Linked DNA regions of Homo sapiens: all the other regions are linked to region 2. The links come from fine-mapping of genetic effects on gene expression. A gene starts in region 2. Each other region holds a variant in brackets. All regions are shown on one strand. Distances are between the middles of the regions.

The links. PIP is the estimated chance that this variant, and not a neighbour inherited with it, causes the effect. A credible set is the group of variants that fine-mapping cannot tell apart.
Region 1: its variant is the best candidate, but not a certain one, in a credible set for the expression of TASL in whole blood (TOPMed, PIP 0.51).
Region 3: its variant is the best candidate, but not a certain one, in a credible set for the expression of TASL in whole blood (TOPMed, PIP 0.52).
Region 4: its variant is the best candidate, but not a certain one, in a credible set for the expression of TASL in thyroid (GTEx, PIP 0.80).

Annotation. Positions count from the first base shown.
Region 1 is chrX:30,608,651-30,611,342 of GRCh38, forward strand. No RefSeq gene overlaps it. Among named protein-coding and RNA genes, the nearest start is that of TASL, 32 kb to the left of the region's middle. The variant G/A (reference allele first, on the strand shown) is at 1,327.
Region 2 is chrX:30,576,242-30,578,933 of GRCh38, forward strand. TASL (TLR adaptor interacting with endolysosomal SLC15A4) reads right to left here and starts at 1,525. Exons shown (of 3, transcript NM_025159.3): 1 at 1,397-1,525; 2 at 511-625. RefSeq lists an enhancer at 1,547-1,756.
Region 3 is chrX:30,526,863-30,529,554 of GRCh38, forward strand. No RefSeq gene overlaps it. Among named protein-coding and RNA genes, the nearest start is that of TASL, 50 kb to the right of the region's middle. The variant G/A (reference allele first, on the strand shown) is at 1,345.
Region 4 is chrX:31,192,687-31,195,378 of GRCh38, forward strand. All of the region lies in intron 67 of DMD (dystrophin), which reads right to left. Among named protein-coding and RNA genes, the nearest start is that of FTHL17, 120 kb to the left of the region's middle. The variant T/C (reference allele first, on the strand shown) is at 1,332.

The sequences.
Region 1 (2,692 bases), 32 kb after region 2:
TTTTTAAAGTACTTTTTTTGCCTTTGTTTTCCAAACACAGCTATTTTGTCCTCAAAATAGTTCTGTGATACATGCAGAGGATTATTACCTAATTATTTGTACCTAATTTTAGATGTATAAAATCACTTGTCCAAAAGTTACACTGTTGGCTCATAGCTGGTTTCTGCAACATTTATTTATAGTATTTAAGCAGGCGGTCTTTGAAGTAGAATAGAATATATGAACTAAAATAAACCAAAAACTGAATTAGTTGATGGATTAGTCAGGATTCTTCAGAAAAACAGAACGTGTGTATACACACACACGGAAAGACAGAAGGAGAAAGACAGAGATGGTGAGATTTATTTTAAGGAATTGCCTCATATGATTGCGGGGGCTAAAAAGACCCAAACCCACAGATCAGACTGGAAATTCCAGCAAGAAGTCGACGTCCTGAGTCTGAAGGCAATCTGGAAACATCATTTCTTCTTCTTCAGTGGCCTTCCAGTCTTTTCTCTCAAGGCCTTCAACTAATTGGATGAGGCCCTCCCACATTATGGAGGGTAATCTGTTTACTCAAATCTACTGATTTAAATATCAATCACATCTAAAAAGATAACCTCACAGCAACATCTAGATTGGCATTTGACCAACTGGGCATAACAGCCTAGCCAAGTTGACACATAAAAATAACCCTAACAGTTGGGATTTGGAATGGCTACGTTGGACTCACATCTTACATTAAGGAGTGGCTTATAAACAAGATAGTTCTCAAGTAAGTAGTCAAAGTCAGCAGCCCAGGAATGGCATAGTAACCCTCCAGTCATTAAGAAACAGGCCCATTCCAGTTTGTTGCTCTACTGTCTTCCACACATAGCTTCTGCCTCATGTCCGAATATGACTTCTTAGACTCAACTATCCAATCTCATTCAAATTTTCTGGAAGAGCATCTACCTCACTTTAAAGACACTTCCTGGAAGTTTCACATGTCTTACACACATGGTCTAGAATTTACATAGCCACAGTTTGTTACAAAAGTGGCTGAGAAATGTTGTCTTTATTTTGGTGGTCATTTCTTCAGCTAAAATTCAGGGAATCTGTACTTTAAAATTCAAGGAAGAAAAAAGAATGGATAACTATAGAGAATAGGTCTACCATGCAGAGATTGTTACATTGCACAACTGAAGGGCTGCCATTTATAGCACAGTATATATCATAAATTATTCAGATCTACTCATATGTGAATGTGATTTAGTGATAGTCATATCAAAGTAGACCTAGTCTATGCATGGTTGAGAGGACTACACAAATCAAGGAGGCAGCAATCACACCACAATCTATACTAGG[G/A]ATCTTCCTAAATTCCTAATTTGCTTAGTGTGGAAGGAAGTGATGACCCCATGGAAGTAGACTTATTCTATATACAGTTGGGTGCACTACACAGCTGTAGGCAGACCTTTCATATTACACTCTATTCCACAGATGTTTCTGGGTTCCTTAATATGCTCAATATGGAGTCAGTGATGATCTCATAAAAATAGATTTAGTTCATGTGTAGGTGGGTACACTCCACAATTTAAGGATTCTATTTATATCACAGTCTATGCCATGAGTCTCTCCGGATTTCTCATATGCTCAATGTGAAAGTTATTGTTGCCCACATGAAATTAGATTGTGTCACGTACTTTGGGTGTGCTGTGTAAAAGGAAAATAAAATCTTGGAAACCCAATTCACTCTGCCAAAGGAAAAAATTAAGCTAAAAGCTGAGTCATGCAAGAAACTGCCTTTCCTTTTGTTTTGAAGCAAATAGCTACACATAAAAGGTTAAATATCTCCGCAGGTAACTACTCTATGTTCAGCTTATCTTATGTAAAGTGCCGATTTACTAAGCGTTAGACAAATACATAATTGACTATTCCCCTACCTGCTCCTATTCTCTAGCAATATGTAAATTCAGTAATGTGACCATGCCCTCCCTCTTTCCCCTCCAGCCTGCTTTTCCCCTTTAAATATTGAAGCCCTCAAAATCAGAAATTTTCCATCTTTTTTTAAAAGAAACCCTACACTCCACTGAAAACATTCGCAATGGTTTTAATCTGAGGCAGAAACAACAACTTGTGAAGCATTTGCCATGTGTTGGGCACAGTACTACACCCTTTATATGTTTTATTTCATTTACTCACTTCCACGACCCTATGAGTTAGTTACTAATCTTATCCCATTTTTATTTTTATTTATTTATTTGGAGACAGAGTCTTGCTCTGTCGCCCAAGCTGGAGTGCAATAACGCTATCTTGGCTCACTGCAGCTTCCGCCTCCCAGGCTCAAATGATTTTCCTGCCTCAGCCTCCCCAGTAGCTGGGATTACAGGCATGCGCCAACACGCCAGGCTTATTTTTGTATTTTTAGTAGAGATGGGATTTCACCCTGTTGGCCAGGCTGGTTTCAAACTCCTGACCTCAGGTGATCTGCCTGCCTCACCCTCCCAAAATGCTGCGATTACAGGCGTGAGCCAGGGCGCCCGGCCTTTACCCATTTTTAAAAACGAGAAAACTGGCCGGGTATGGTGGCTCACGCTTATAAACCCAGCATTTTGGGAGGCTGAGGCAGGCGGATCGCCTGAGGTCAGGAGTTCAAGACCAGCCTAACCAACATGGGGAAACTCTGTCTCTACTAAGAATACGAAAATTAAGCGGGACATGGTGGCAGGCACCT
Region 2 (2,692 bases):
TGTGTTATAGAAGACTGCCTTTATTTTTAGGAGATACATGCTCAAGAATTTAGGGGTGACATGTGTCCTAAAGTCAGCAACATACTTTCAAACCATTCAGGGAAAAAACTGTGCATATGTGCATGCGTGTGTGTGAATATATATATACACATATAGAGAGAGAGAAAAGGACAGGCAGAGACAGAGAAAGACAAAGCGAGAGAGAAAGTAAATGTGGCAAAAAGATACCACTGATTAATACACATGATGAAAATATGGGTGTTCGTTGTACTATTCTTTCAATTTTTATATAGATTTGAAACATTTCTAAATAAAAATTGGGAGGGGGAAAAAACCATATTTAGTTAATGAAGGCATATTTACATTGTATAATGTTTATTAAGAGCCTAGAGGGACAATATCTTATATATCTAAAATAATCACTACATATGAGATGAGAAATGTCTCAGTGACTTGATATAAATACTTCAAACATCATTTTGCTCTGAGATAATAGAATTAGTGTACTACCTTTGAATATCTCCAAAATTCCACTTATGATATGGATGTTTGACACAGACTTCAAATACTCTTCAATCCTCCAGAAGCTTCTCAAGCTCAGAAACAATCTTCTTCTCACACTGACCTATGCAAGAAATGTTATAAAATATCAATATAAATATTCTGTCCAAACCAGGTCTATATTTAAGCACAGATTCATATGCGCAAGACAAAGAATGTTTGAGCGAGTCTAAAGATAATTCAAACAAAACTCCACTCGTACATGCGCTATCTTTAATACCAAAAGGGAAGCTTTCCCCAAATCACCCAGATGAAAGTCGAAAAGCATCCTCACTATAGATCGCATTCATTTTGAATACATCCTGCCACACAGAAAAACACTATCACAAGCTTGCTGAACTGAATAATTGAGAGTCAAATCCAATTGGAAAGGACTGTGATTGTTTTCGTCTCTAAAACTGCATCACCGTAACTGAATTCAAGAGCTGTGTTGTCCCTGCAAAACCCTGCTTAGGTTTTTAGGCCTTCTTTTAAAAATGCAGAAGCTAAACCAGTGTGGCAATTAGTGAAAGAGGACTGCAAAAATAACACAATAAATATTTGCTCAGATCAGTCAAAAATTGTAGGTAAAAATATAAGTGTTTTAGAAATGCTTAGAATGTGGACACGAGGAGGTAAGGAAAGGAAGTATTGGGCTTAATTTCTCTTTATTTTTCAACTCCACTGAATGCTTGTTTAAACTCCCACTTGTCTCTGATATGGTAAGCTAGAAAAGCATTTTAGATGTCATAAGAATGGATCAGCGCTCTCGTGATAAAGGGCTAAGAAAGCGTGAGAAGACAGATGACAAAAAATAATAGCGGAGTTCTAGGGTCCTTTGCTTTCTTTTTCTTACCTTCACTAACCAATCTGCTCATCTGATCCGGCAGAAACACAGCAACTGACCAAACAGAGAGATGAACAAGCCAGCCAATGCTCTTTCCAGAAATTTTCACAAGCCTTTCACTGATGAGACCAGTAGACTGAGCTGCTCAGTGCAAAGCCATTCTTTTTATAATTGGTCCCATGGAAAAAGAGTTGTTTTTGTTCAAGTCCGATTTGTGCTAAAGAGGCAGTGGGAAGTCCCGGGAGGTGGGGAGGCAGTAACTGACAAAGCCACATCAAGCCACAGAATGGTGTTTCTTCCCCTTTTTCGAAAAATGAAACCTATCTACGAAACTGTCTCTTATTAAAATAGTTTATGGTTACACATTTTGTAAGAACCCTAGCAACAGAATTAAATTTCCTTTCTAGAAAAGTACATTATCTGGGATCCTTCACCCAAAAGAAAGCCAAAGTCACATATGACTTTAGGAAATTCTGTTTCGTTACTAATCTATAATTTTTAAGAAGTATTATTTCTCAATGGTACTTATAATTTTTAAAAATGTAAATGAAAAAAATTTTCTCGGCCGGGCGCAGTGGCTCACGCCTGTAATCCCAGCACTTTGGGAGGCCGAGGCAGGTGGATCAGGAGGTCAGGAAATCGAGACCATCCTGGCAAACACGGCGAAACCTCGTCTCTCCTAAAAATACAAAAAATTAGCCGGGCGCGGTGGCGGGCGCCTGTGGTCCCAGCTACTCGGGAGGCTGAGGCAGGAGAATGGCGTGAACCCGGGAAGTGGAGCTTGCAGTGAGCCGAGATCGCGCCACTGCACTCCAGCCTGGGCGACAGGGCGAGACTCCGTCTCAAAAGAAAAAAAAAAGAAAAAAGTTTTCCCTCTCCAAATACCGAAGGTCAAAACAATAATACATGGTGTGGGCAAAGTTGTGAAGAAACAAGCACTCTCAAACACTACTGATGAGATTGTAAACATATTTAGAGGGCAATTTCCCAGTATCTCTCAAATACAAATATTCATACCCTTTGACCCAACAATTGTATTTTTTATAAATTTGTCCAAGCTATATGTTTACACTTGTACACAAAGACTTATGTGAAAAGATATTTGTTGCAGCATTGCTTGAGAAAATAAATGACTAGAAAAAATTATATCCATAAATAAGATATTGGCCAAGTAAATGAGAACGTATGCATACTTAAAATCCTATGTAGGTTGTGTGCGGTGGCTCACGCCTGTAATCCTAGCACTTTGGGAGGCCGAGGCAGGTGGATCACTTGAGGTCAGAAGTTTGAGACCAGCCTGGCCAA
Region 3 (2,692 bases), 49 kb before region 2:
TACATTATCATTAAGATAATTTGGAAAATATACAAAGACAAAAAAATCACATCTAGTCCCATTATCTCAGTATAGACTCTTTGAGTATTACGTGTCCTTTCTTCTAGCTTACTTTTTATGCAAAAATGATTTGTTTATTAAAAATGTAACAGTAAGTAATACTACATACAATATTGTTTAATGATGTTTCTCTTAATATTAAAACAGAAGTATTTTTCTACACTATTACATAATCTTCACAAATGGCATTTTATATAGTTCTGCAATGCCGAGACCAGCTCGGTCGGTCGTGGACACCCTAACCCAGCGGCGCTAGAGGAATTAAAGACACACACACAGAAATATAGAGTGTGGAGTGGGAAATCAGGGGACTCACAGCCTTCAGAGCTGAGAGCCCCGAACAGAGTTTGACCCACCTATTTATTGACAGCAAGCCAGTGATAAGCATTGTTTCTATAGATTGTAGATTAACTAAAAGTATTCCTTATGGGAAACAAAGGGATGGGCTGAAACAAAGGGATGGGCTCTGGCTAGTTATCTGCAGCAGGAACATGTCCTTAAGGTGCAGATTGCTCATGCTATTGTTTGTGGTTTAGGAACGCCTTTAAGTGGTTTTCCGTCCTGAGTGGGCCAGGTGTTCCTTGCCCTCATTCCAGTAAACCCACAACCTTCAGCGTGGGCATCATGGCCATCATGAACATGTCACAGTGCTGCAGAGATTTTGTTTGTGGCCAGTTTTGGGGCCAGTTTATGGCCAGATTTGGGGACCTGTTCCCAACACTGCAAAATAATTTCTCTAGTGCTATATCACAGATTAAACATTCTTTTTTATCTTCTTTTAATTAATATTTAATGATACATTAATTTTCATGATCATAAATTACACTGAACTTAATAAATTATGCAAAAAATGATCTTGACTCTGCAATGTCACTTACACTAACTCTTTCATTTTTTATAACTGGTATGTTTTTCACTCTACAGGTAGAATAAAAATTAAAGTTTAGCCCAACCTGGTAACTCCATTAAGTCTTAATTTAAATAATTTAAACTGAGTTTTATTTGAATGGGCCCAGACTTCAGATTTTCCTTGCATCTACTATTGTTTCTAAGAAGTTCACAGGGTTTACTCTACCTCGTGGCATTGTGGGAAGACAGCGTTGTCCATAACGTGGTATTGATCCGGTCCCATCCTTGGGTACTCTATTGGCACTTGCTGCTGAAGATTTTGGCTGATGCAACTTGTGGACTGCTCTTCCAGACAACTTGGCTCTATCTTAGTTCTCAGGGGTGCCTATGAAACCCCTCAAGAAGTCTCAGTATGTGTCAGTTGGCTTTAGTAGC[G/A]TGATAAAATGTTTTTAAATTTAGTGGTTTAAAATAACTATCTAGCTCATGATTCTGCTGGGCACTTCATTGTCTGGACCAGGCTCAAGGAATTTCAGTTGGGTTGTTCATGCATTCATGGTTGGCAGGTCAATGGGTAACCAATTGGCCTCACCATTCAAATGTTTGGTGGTTGACACGTACAACGGGAGTTACTAGCCCATCTACCTTTGGTTATCTGGCGGGCTAGCTGGAGGTTTTCATGTCACCACTGAAAAAAAAAGCAGCTATTACAAAAGCAGACAGAGGGGAAAACTCCACTGCGCAATTGCTTTTCAAGTCACTTTTCAAGTTTACATAATATTTTCTAATGTCCCATTGGCTAAAGCAAGTGTAGGGGTACACTATTAAAGGGCATGGATAGATGGAAAGAAATAATTTGTGGCCATTTTTATAAATTACAACATACTGTGATTGCCATTCAGTCACCAAGTGGGCCAGGTGCTGTGGCTCACATCTGTAACCCCAGCACTTTGGGAGGCCGAGGCGGGCAGATCACCTGAGGTCAGGAATTCGAGACCACCCTGGACAACATGGTGAAACCCCGTCTCGACTGAAAATACAAAAACTTTTCTGGGCGTGGTGGCACGTGCCTGTAATCACAGCTACTCAGGAGGCTGAGGCAGGAGAATCGCTTGAACCCAGGAGGCAGATATTGCAGTGAGCTGAGATTGCACCACTACGCTCCAACCTGGGCAACATAGTGAGACTCTGTCTCAAAAAAAATAAAATTACCAAGTGCCATAGCAACCCACTCTGGTATACTACCTGATTAGACTAGGTAACCTGTTGGGGGCATGTGGAAATAGTGCCATTTAAGACCCAAGGGCAGCTTTGGAGTATTAGCTCTAGTTTTCTCTGTCTAACCACTCCATCGTCCCTTGTTTCTGGGATAAGTGGGGAAAAGACCCCACCTCAGGTTTATCTTCAACCTCTCCTATATACATCCTGTCCACCTGCCAGGATTCTTAGTTGCAGACAACAGGATCTGCTAATTTAGGCATAAAATACATATCAAAATATGTTAGGCAGATACTGTGAGAGGACCAAAGAATGGACCTATATACTGTAGTCCCAGGATCAAAGCACTGAGAGATAATACAGTCTGAGAAAACACACAATTATATCGCAAACCCACCACTCAAATCCTTTGACACTGGATGCCAAAAACTCCACCACAGCTGAAGATCAAATGCCTCAACCCCTGAACTTTCCAGATGATCCCCTCTTCCCACCTGCAACCACCAGCTCCTGTTGCTACCTCCAAGTTGAACACTGATGCTAAGAAATTGGGTCACATGCAGAACTC
Region 4 (2,692 bases), 620 kb after region 2:
TACAGATAAGAAAAGGCCCAAAGAGGTTAAGGAAACAGCTTAAGATTATCTACGATTTTAATACTGAAATATATGCTTAAAATAGTCTTAAAAAGACAGGACAAAAGTGATTTCCTATGGGAAAAAGCAAGGCGATCCCCAAAATCTTTTGAATCTTTAATTTGTTTGAAAGTACTAGAGTCTGATAGCTAAGTAAGCAAGGCCCACTTAGGACAATTTCCAGGTGAATATAAATCTTCAACTGAATTATATGCCGATAACATGGCTGCGAGAGCCAATGGAAGGTGCAAGTGAATACCCCACAACACTGATAAATGCATACTTATATCTCATCTGATCAACTCCTTTCCCCCTTCTTTTCAGCATTACATGTCCCTCGTACCATTAGATGCTACGGCATGTATGAGCTACCTGGACTGACAGGTGCGGGTCCATATATATTGAAGTGGCAAAAAGGAAAAAAAAGAAACAAAACTCTATGAGCTTCTCAATTCAGCACAGTTTTCATGTTACGTGTTTTAATTATGTCAATGTGTTGTTCCCATAAAAGGATTGGTTAATATGGAAATGTATTTATTAGACATCTGTTTATGTGGCTCTCTGGAGAAAGGACTTTCAATTCCATACACTGCCATTTTAAACAATTCCAAGACAAAAATAGTATCCAATGGCAGTTCAGTAAAGAGAGATATCATTCTTTGTACACTCAGAACCACCTTGGATGTCCACAGTGATATTCATGAATAGACGGGGGAGAGGTAGAAGCTCTTCTTTACATAAGAAAATGGTCTAATACATGCAGAAAGTATGGTAGAATTAGAAAGCCACCATTATGCAACCACCAATATTATAACTGAATTAGACAAGGATCATCCATAAATGCTAAAACCATAGGGTAAAAGGTTAAGGAATGGATATTATAATATGTCAAAATATCAAAAAATTACTTTCTCATTACAAAGGGAAAAGGATATTTTACAAGGAAAGTATCTTGTAGACACCACCTTAACATTCTTAGTGATACCAATAGGAACAAAATGTTATTTTGTTCCTCCAGATTGTGATACAGTGGTAGGTACAGAGCATCATCTTATCGTCTTTTGGCCAAAAAATGTTAACATTAATCTAATCACAAGGAAACCATCAGAAAAGCCCAGAGTATGGGACATTCTTCAAGAGAACTGGTCTGAACTCTTCAAAAATGTCAACGTCAGCCCGGCGTGGTGGCTGATACCTGTAATTCCAGTACTTTGGGAGGCCGAGGCAGGTGGATCACCTGAGGTCAGGAGTTCAAGACCAGCCTGGCCAACGTGGTGAAACCCTGTCTCTAC[T/C]AAAAATACAAAAATCAGCCGGGTGTGGTGGTGCATGCCTGTAATCCCAGCTACTCCTGAGGCTGAGGTGGAGAGTCACATGAACTCGGGAAGCAGAGGTTGCAGTGAGCCGAGATTGCGCCACTGCACTCCAGCCTGGGTGACAGAGCGAGACTCTGTCCCCCTACCAAAAAAGTCAATGTCATGAAAGGAAAACAAAATGCTGGGAGACTGTTCAAAACTAAATGAAGGTACAGAGACATGACAGACAAAAACCTTGACTAGATGCTGGAAGAAAACAGTGGCTATAAGGAACAATTCTGGGGCACTGGGGAAAGTTCAGTGTGGACTGCATATCAGAGGGTATTGCTGGATTGCTGTTAAATTTGTGTGTAACGATAGCATTGCAGTTATGTTAGAGAATGTCATCCTTTAAGAAAATGGTGTATGGTGAAGTGTTTAGGGGTTTATGTTGTGATGCTCCTTTACTTTTAAATGGCATAGGGGAAAATGTGTTTGTGTGTGTATGTACACAGACAGACACATACATAAACAGAGCTGAGAGGGTGGAGGAGGTAAGTAGAGCGAAAAGCAACCATGGATTGAACAGATGTATGACACAGATGAGTGTTCTTTAGACTATCCTTTCAACTACTCTTTGTGCTTGAAATGTTTCCAAAATAAAACGTTGGTTGGAAACCGTTATTTCTCCCAAGTCACCCCTTCATGGGAATAGGTTGTGGGCAAGGCAGGAGGGTGGGCAAGAGTGATTTTAGTAACTGTGAAAGGGACAGGACAATGGTATTAATGTCAATAGTAATGAGTGTGAAAAGTTCCCCAGGATTCGTTTTCTCTAAAAATACAAACCTAACGCAAAATTGATTTCCTTCCTGTCCTTGTCACGGTTCTTAAAGCATCTCCTCATCGACTCTGCCTAGATGTGCTTTTCCTAGATCCCTAAATGTGAATCTCCAGGCATGAAAATGAGTTTAAGAGTCCCCACATGCGCAGAAGCAGAACTTTTTGTTTAAGGATTGAGAGGTCAAGAGTTGTCTTTGTGAGACAAGAAGAAGTAAAAGGCTTCCCATAACTACCATCTTGGGTAGAAATCAAGTATTTTATTTAAAGTTCTGAAGATAATGAGCAGGTAGGAGGCCAGCAGTCACTGCTCTAAATATTAATCAGGACTCTGAATCACCCATTAAAGATAAAATCAGCCCAAACAATAACACATGGTGATTATCCACTCTTCATTTCCATGTTCAAGGACAACTGTCCTGACCTCAGGCTCTGCACTCCACCTGACTAATAAACCAATTAACGCCATGGCCCTAGGGAACATATGCACAATTTTAAATCTATGCAAATCCCTAAGTATACTC